Linked DNA regions of Homo sapiens. The protein of the gene in region 2 purifies or fractionates together with the protein of the main gene of each other region. This does not show direct contact. Each region holds a gene or a part of one and is shown on either strand. Other genes may lie near its edges.

Region 1 (3,829 bases), on a different chromosome or scaffold from region 2:
TATGAAGTCAAAGATGGAGACATTAATGGGATCTTTACCATAAATCCATATTCTGGAGTCATCACCACTCAGAAGGCCCTGGATTATGAGCGCACATCCTCTTATCAACTCATCATTCAGGCCACCAATATGGCAGGAATGGCTTCCAATGCTACAGTCAATATTCAGATTGTTGATGAAAATGATAATGCCCCAGTTTTTCTCTTTTCTCAATACTCAGGCAGCCTAAGTGAGGCTGCCCCAATTAATAGCATTGTCAGGAGCTTGGATAACAGCCCACTGGTGATTCGAGCCACAGATGCTGACAGCAACCGGAATGCTCTGCTTGTGTATCAGATTGTGGAGTCAACAGCAAAAAAGTTTTTCACGGTGGACTCCAGTACAGGTGCAATCAGAACAATTGCCAACCTGGACCATGAAACCATTGCCCATTTCCATTTTCATGTGCATGTGAGAGACAGTGGTAGCCCCCAACTGACTGCAGAGAGTCCCGTTGAAGTCAACATTGAGGTGACAGATGTGAATGATAACCCACCTGTTTTTACTCAGGCTGTGTTTGAGACTATCTTACTTCTACCTACCTATGTTGGAGTGGAGGTTCTGAAAGTTAGTGCCACAGATCCTGACTCTGAGGTACCCCCTGAACTGACATACAGCCTAATGGAAGGCAGTTTGGATCATTTTTTAATTGACTCAAACAGTGGAGTACTTACCATAAAAAACAACAACCTCTCCAAGGATCACTACATGCTGATAGTTAAGGTGTCTGATGGAAAGTTCTACAGTACCTCCATGGTCACCATCATGGTTAAAGAAGCCATGGACAGCGGCCTCCACTTTACACAAAGCTTCTATTCCACCTCAATCTCAGAGAACAACACTAACATAACCAAAGTTGCTATTGTCAATGCAGTTGGAAATCGCCTTAATGAGCCCTTAAAATACAGCATCTTAAACCCAGGAAATAAGTTCAAGATAAAATCTACCTCAGGGGTCATTCAGACGACTGGAGTCCCCTTTGACCGTGAAGAACAAGAGTTATATGAGCTGGTGGTAGAAGCCAGCCGTGAGCTGGACCATCTGCGTGTGGCCAGAGTGGTGGTCAGGGTTAACATTGAAGACATAAATGACAATTCTCCAGTCTTTGTGGGCCTCCCATACTATGCTGCTGTTCAAGTGGATGCGGAACCCGGGACTCTGATTTATCAGGTGACAGCCATTGACAAAGATAAAGGTCCAAATGGAGAAGTGACCTATGTCCTGCAGGATGACTATGGCCACTTTGAAATTAACCCTAATTCAGGGAATGTTATTTTAAAGGAAGCATTCAACTCTGACTTGTCCAACATTGAGTATGGAGTCACCATCCTAGCCAAGGATGGCGGAAAACCTTCTTTGTCTACATCTGTGGAGCTTCCCATCACTATTGTCAACAAAGCAATGCCTGTGTTTGATAAGCCCTTTTATACAGCATCTGTCAATGAAGACATCAGAATGAACACACCCATCCTAAGCATCAATGCCACCAGTCCAGAAGGCCAAGGCATCATATATATCATTATCGATGGGGACCCTTTTAAACAGTTTAACATTGACTTTGACACTGGGGTCCTGAAAGTTGTTAGCCCTTTGGATTATGAAGTTACATCTGCTTACAAGCTGACAATAAGAGCCAGCGACGCCCTTACTGGTGCTAGGGCTGAAGTCACTGTTGACTTGCTAGTTAATGATGTAAATGACAACCCCCCTATTTTCGATCAGCCTACATACAATACAACACTATCAGAAGCATCTCTTATTGGGACACCTGTTTTACAAGTTGTCTCTATTGATGCAGACTCAGAAAACAATAAAATGGTACATTATCAGATTGTCCAGGATACCTACAATAGCACAGATTATTTTCACATAGATAGCTCAAGTGGCTTAATCCTGACAGCACGAATGCTGGACCATGAGTTAGTACAACACTGCACTTTGAAAGTCAGATCAATAGATAGTGGCTTCCCATCACTGAGCAGTGAGGTTCTCGTTCATATCTACATCTCTGATGTAAATGACAACCCTCCAGTTTTTAATCAGCTCATTTATGAGTCATATGTGAGTGAATTAGCCCCCCGGGGCCATTTTGTAACCTGTGTACAAGCCTCTGATGCAGACAGCTCTGATTTTGACCGGTTGGAATATAGCATTTTATCTGGGAATGACCGGACGAGCTTTCTGATGGACAGCAAGAGTGGAGTTATCACATTGTCCAACCATCGGAAGCAGCGGATGGAGCCTCTGTACAGTCTCAATGTGTCTGTCTCTGATGGGTTGTTCACCAGCACTGCACAGGTGCATATTAGGGTACTTGGGGCTAACTTGTACAGCCCTGCCTTTTCACAAAGCACATACGTAGCTGAGGTGAGAGAGAACGTGGCTGCAGGAACAAAGGTAATTCATGTTCGAGCCACAGATGGTGATCCAGGGACTTATGGGCAGATCAGCTATGCCATCATCAATGACTTTGCCAAGGATCGATTCCTCATAGACAGCAATGGGCAGGTCATCACCACAGAAAGGCTAGACCGGGAAAACCCTCTAGAAGGGGATGTTAGTATTTTTGTGAGGGCCCTTGATGGTGGAGGGAGAACAACTTTCTGCACTGTGAGAGTGATTGTTGTGGATGAAAATGACAATGCTCCCCAGTTCATGACAGTGGAATATAGAGCCAGTGTCAGGGCAGATGTTGGAAGGGGCCACTTGGTCACTCAAGTTCAAGCCATAGATCCCGATGATGGAGCAAATTCAAGGATTACTTATTCCCTCTATAGCGAGGCCTCTGTTTCAGTGGCCGACCTCCTGGAAATCGATCCTGACAATGGCTGGATGGTCACAAAGGGTAATTTTAACCAGCTGAAAAATACAGTGCTTTCGTTCTTTGTCAAAGCAGTAGATGGGGGCATCCCAGTAAAGCACTCCCTCATTCCTGTCTATATCCACGTCTTGCCCCCTGAAACGTTCTTGCCATCATTCACCCAGTCTCAGTATTCCTTTACCATTGCAGAAGATACAGCCATTGGGAGTACAGTGGACACCCTGAGGATTTTGCCCAGTCAGAATGTCTGGTTCAGCACAGTTAATGGGGAACGGCCAGAAAATAACAAAGGGGGCATATTCGTCATAGAACAGGAAACAGGCACTATTAAGCTTGACAAACGCCTTGACCGTGAAACCAGCCCAGCTTTCCACTTTAAAGTAGCAGCCACTATACCCCTGGACAAAGTAGACATTGTGTTTACTGTGGATGTAGATATCAAGGTATTGGATTTGAATGACAACAAGCCAGTCTTTGAAACTTCAAGCTATGACACCATTATAATGGAAGGGATGCCTGTTGGCACCAAACTCACACAAGTGAGAGCTATTGATATGGACTGGGGAGCCAATGGACAAGTCACTTACTCCCTCCACTCGGATTCCCAGCCCGAAAAGGTAATGGAAGCATTCAATATTGACAGCAACACGGGCTGGATCAGTACCTTGAAGGACCTAGATCACGAGACAGACCCCACATTCACCTTCTCTGTGGTGGCCTCTGACCTTGGAGAGGCATTCTCTCTTTCCTCCACGGCCTTGGTCTCTGTCAGAGTGACAGATATAAATGACAATGCACCAGTCTTCGCGCAGGAAGTGTACCGAGGGAATGTGAAGGAGAGCGACCCACCGGGCGAGGTGGTAGCCGTCCTCAGCACCTGGGACAGAGACACATCCGACGTTAATCGCCAAGTGAGCTACCATATTACAGGTGAGTAAATACCCCCAGTTTTCATTATGTGCACTGCTT
Region 2 (3,829 bases):
ACATCTATATTCCATTGGCCCATAATTTTGCTAGATAACTAAATTTTGGTGAACAAGTAGAGGAACTTGAGTGTTATAAAAAGAAAAAAGCAAAGGTAACAACCTAACTTACAATTAATTTTGGCCCCCCTGTTTGATAATTAGAAGATTTTCAGGTGAACAGCCTGTGATTTCAGTGCCATTATATGAAATCTTAGATGGTAAAACAGAGTTACGTTCCTACAGTCTAGTGTTTTTGCTTCTCCTCCTTCCATTAACTATCAAACTATGGTAGCAGACCTGAACTATTTACTCTACTCTCTTATCAGAAACTGAAATGAAGTCCTTTGAACAAATTTAGAAAAAATTATTTAACACTTAATAGTTCTCATCCATATAATTACCAAAGCTGAATCCACATCATTCATTAATTTACTATGTGCCTAGATTAAGAGAATCCAAGTATATTATCTGGAACAGGATTGAGACAAGTAAAAAAAATAAATGTATGTTCACCTTCCCATCCTGATCTACCTTGTCCAATGAAGGCTTCCATAAACCCATCTCTTTTTCCAAAGAGAGCAAGACTATTGAGATGAAAGTGAATCATAAAAGAGCAACCAGAGAATCATAAAAAAGAGCAGTAGAGAATAAAATGGGAGGAGTTATTTATGGCCACTTATACATTATTAAAATTGTAAAAGCAAAAATTCATTTTACTTGGAATCCTGATCTGAAGTAATGATAGCATGTAGTTTTTCTAAAAACTCATATGTGAACCTTGAAGATTTTCAAAAAAGATAACAAAAATGAGAAATACTCTTTAGCAATTCAAATATCAGCAGGCATCAGTTTTTGTCTCTGGCCTATTTGCATCTCTTTCTTATACTGGAAGGAAGCCGTGCTGTGACTCATTACTACTCTTTTCTACCTTTTCACTGCATGTCCAAAGCAGGTGACCCTGCTCTTTCCCTTTCCCAGTGAAATTCAGTTAATCATAAGGGGAACGAGGCAAGCAAGTTAAACACAAAAACAAAACTTACCTGCAGTTTCCTTTCCATACCTCCTGATCCCCTCCTCCTATGCTCACCCTACCACTGTGGCTTCACCTCCCTCCCTGCTGGAACTTTCACCACAAATGTCACCAACAGAAGAAGGTTGAGGCAGGCTGAAGGAGAGGATATATTCCTAGAATCTAAAGGTGAAACTATGGATGCATTTTATTCATGGAAACATTGTTATCCACTTCCGTTGGATTCTATTATGTTTACTATGCCTCAGGTGGTTGAAGAGTTAAAGGGATTTTGATGGGCTGGCCTGATGTTTGGACATTAAAAAGTGTGCTATGAGGAACACTAGTTCTACAAGGCCACCAAACAAAGCAAAACCAAATAGTGATGTGTGATCAAATAGAGTTTGGAAAACACTTCATTCTGCTTCTCTCCCCTTTAATATTTACAATGCATATTAGCATATTAAAGGTTCTGAGAAATCATGGTTTTTTTTTGTTTTTTTAAAAAAAGGAACATTGGCACTGCTCTCAAAGACTCTATGTAAACAAATAACTTTTATCCCCGGCGAAATCCCTCAACACGTCAGGAAACATAATCTGTAGCAGAAGTCCACACACATTTTCTGTAAAGGGCTGGAGAGTACATATTTTAGGCTTTGTGGTAGGGTTGCCAGATAAAATATAGGACACCTAGTTAAATTTGAATTTCAGATAAATAATGAATAATTTTTAGTAAAAGTGTGTCCTAAATATGTCCTCAGAGGTATTTGTTGCATTGCCCTGTGTTTTTATTTGCTAAATCTGGCAACTCAACTTTCTAGACTAGACAGTCACCTTGGCAACTACTCAACCCAACTGTTGAAGGGTCAAAGCAGCCGTAAGCAAGGCATAAAATGAGCAGGAGTGGCTCTGTTCCCTGTTATTTATGAGCACGGGAACTTGAATTTCATAGCATTTTTATGTGTCAGGAATTACTATTTTTCTTTTGATTTTTTTTTTAACCATGAAATCCTAGCAGTTTGGGAGGCCGAGGAGGGTGGACTGCCTGAGCTCAGGAGTTCAGGACCAGCCTGGGCAACACGGTGAAACCCCATCTCTACTAAAATACAAAAAATTAGCCAGGCGTGGCACCGTGCGTTGTAGTCCCAGCTACTCAGGAGGCTGAGTCAGGAGAATCGCTTGAACCCAGGAGGTGGAAGTTGCAGTGAGCCGAGATCACACCACTGCACTCCAGCCTGGGTGACAGAGTGAGACTCCGTCTCCAAAAAAGAAAAAAAGTAAAAACTATTTTTAACTTGTGAACTATACAAAAACAGGCAACAGGCTGAATTTGGACCATGGGCTACAGTTTCCTGTAGTATAAATGCTTTCTGAATTAACAGGGTTTAATCAAGTGACTTCTTGTAATACAACTGATTGAGAATTCTTAGTATGCAAGTATCTATATCTGTCTCAGGACTGACTGACTCATCCTCTGACTACTGAAGAACTGAGCTTTGAACTCTAATGAGCCTGACGTGTTTCCAACTCACCTATTTAAGCATAAATCAGAACTCAGTGGATCTGATTGTAGCAGGCTGGGGAGGGGGCAGCGACTTAGCAGACCACATGTTCCCTTCACTTATCATAAAGAACTGCATACCAGTGTAATTGGCAGTGTAGGACTGAATGTTGACCTATACCAACATTTTAACTATTTAACCGTTTTTTAAAACTTTAATTGAAGAAAGTCAAGCAAAAAAAAATCAATTTTAAGAAGCAAAGAGTTAAAACTTACGTAAAACAGGGACAACTCTTCCTCTTTTAACTTTTAAATTATATCTGCGCCCAGAGGCTTGGGCAGGAAGGTGATTGAGAGTAACTTCTCCCACTGTTGGTTTCACATCAAACCATTCTATAAAATATGAACACAAAAGTTATTTCTTAAAAAGCCATAATGGCCATTGTCAAAATAAGATGCCATAATTTAAAAATTAAGTAAATTATTTAAATTTCTGTTTATCATATTCCTGAGTAGTGTGAATACCTAGGTTAATAGTCCCTCCCCACATTGCTCACAATATATTTAATACACAAAATAGTTACTTTAAAGGTAATATATTTATGTTCCTGTTAGTCTTTGGTAAGTTTTTATTCAATTATAATGTATATACAAAAAGGTAAACAAACAGTAAGTATAATTCACTCCAATGAATGTGTGAGTGAATACACTTAGGGTACCATCATCCAGATCAAGAAATGATGTGTTACCAGTACCCCAAAGCCCCCTCATGTCTTTCCAAGACAGTATTCTAAAAGGAAAATGCTATCCTGACTTCTATCATTATAGGTTAGTTTTATGTATTTTTATATTTGATAAAATCATACAGTATCTTTCATTTTGCACATATTTGTGAATTAAAATTATTTCCATGTTTCCCATATTTCTTTTTAACTAATCCTGTAAACTGAAATACTTGAGCAATTTCCTTGTGCTTCTAAAGATCACTTCCTCCTCTGCAACTCATCCTTCACTGAGGCTTGAAGAAGTTGCTAAGTTAATTCCTACTCACCAGTCATGCTCTGTCAACACTAAACACAACTCTGGCCAGTAACACTGCCAGAACTATAGTTATCACAATTAATTACTTTGGCCACAAATGAGAAATGTTTAAAATCAGCAGTCTCAGGAATCAAGACTGGAAAAAGAGCACTGCTCAAGAATTGGAAGGGTTTAGATGATCTGTAGTTAAAGAAAAAATGTGTTCAAAAGACAACAGAGATACAGGTTAGTTTTCTACAAAGATAGACTTTTAAACAGAAAAGTCAATGATGCCTGATTTGTGGTGTTAAAATATA

What was found.
Region 1: the proteins of SPATA4 (region 2) and FAT3 purify together in Homo sapiens (affinity purification with mass spectrometry; one large-scale study listed by BioGRID and IntAct). This does not show direct contact.

The regions. Positions count from the first base shown.
Region 1 is NC_000011.10:92,798,120-92,801,948, forward strand, and holds part of FAT3 (protocadherin Fat 3 isoform 1 precursor), read left to right. Parts: coding exon 1-3,790; intron 3,791-3,829.
Region 2 is NC_000004.12:176,185,351-176,189,179, forward strand, and holds part of SPATA4 (spermatogenesis-associated protein 4), read right to left. Parts: intron 2,886-3,829; coding exon 2,769-2,885; intron 1-2,768. UniProt on the Homo sapiens protein: May play a role in apoptosis regulation.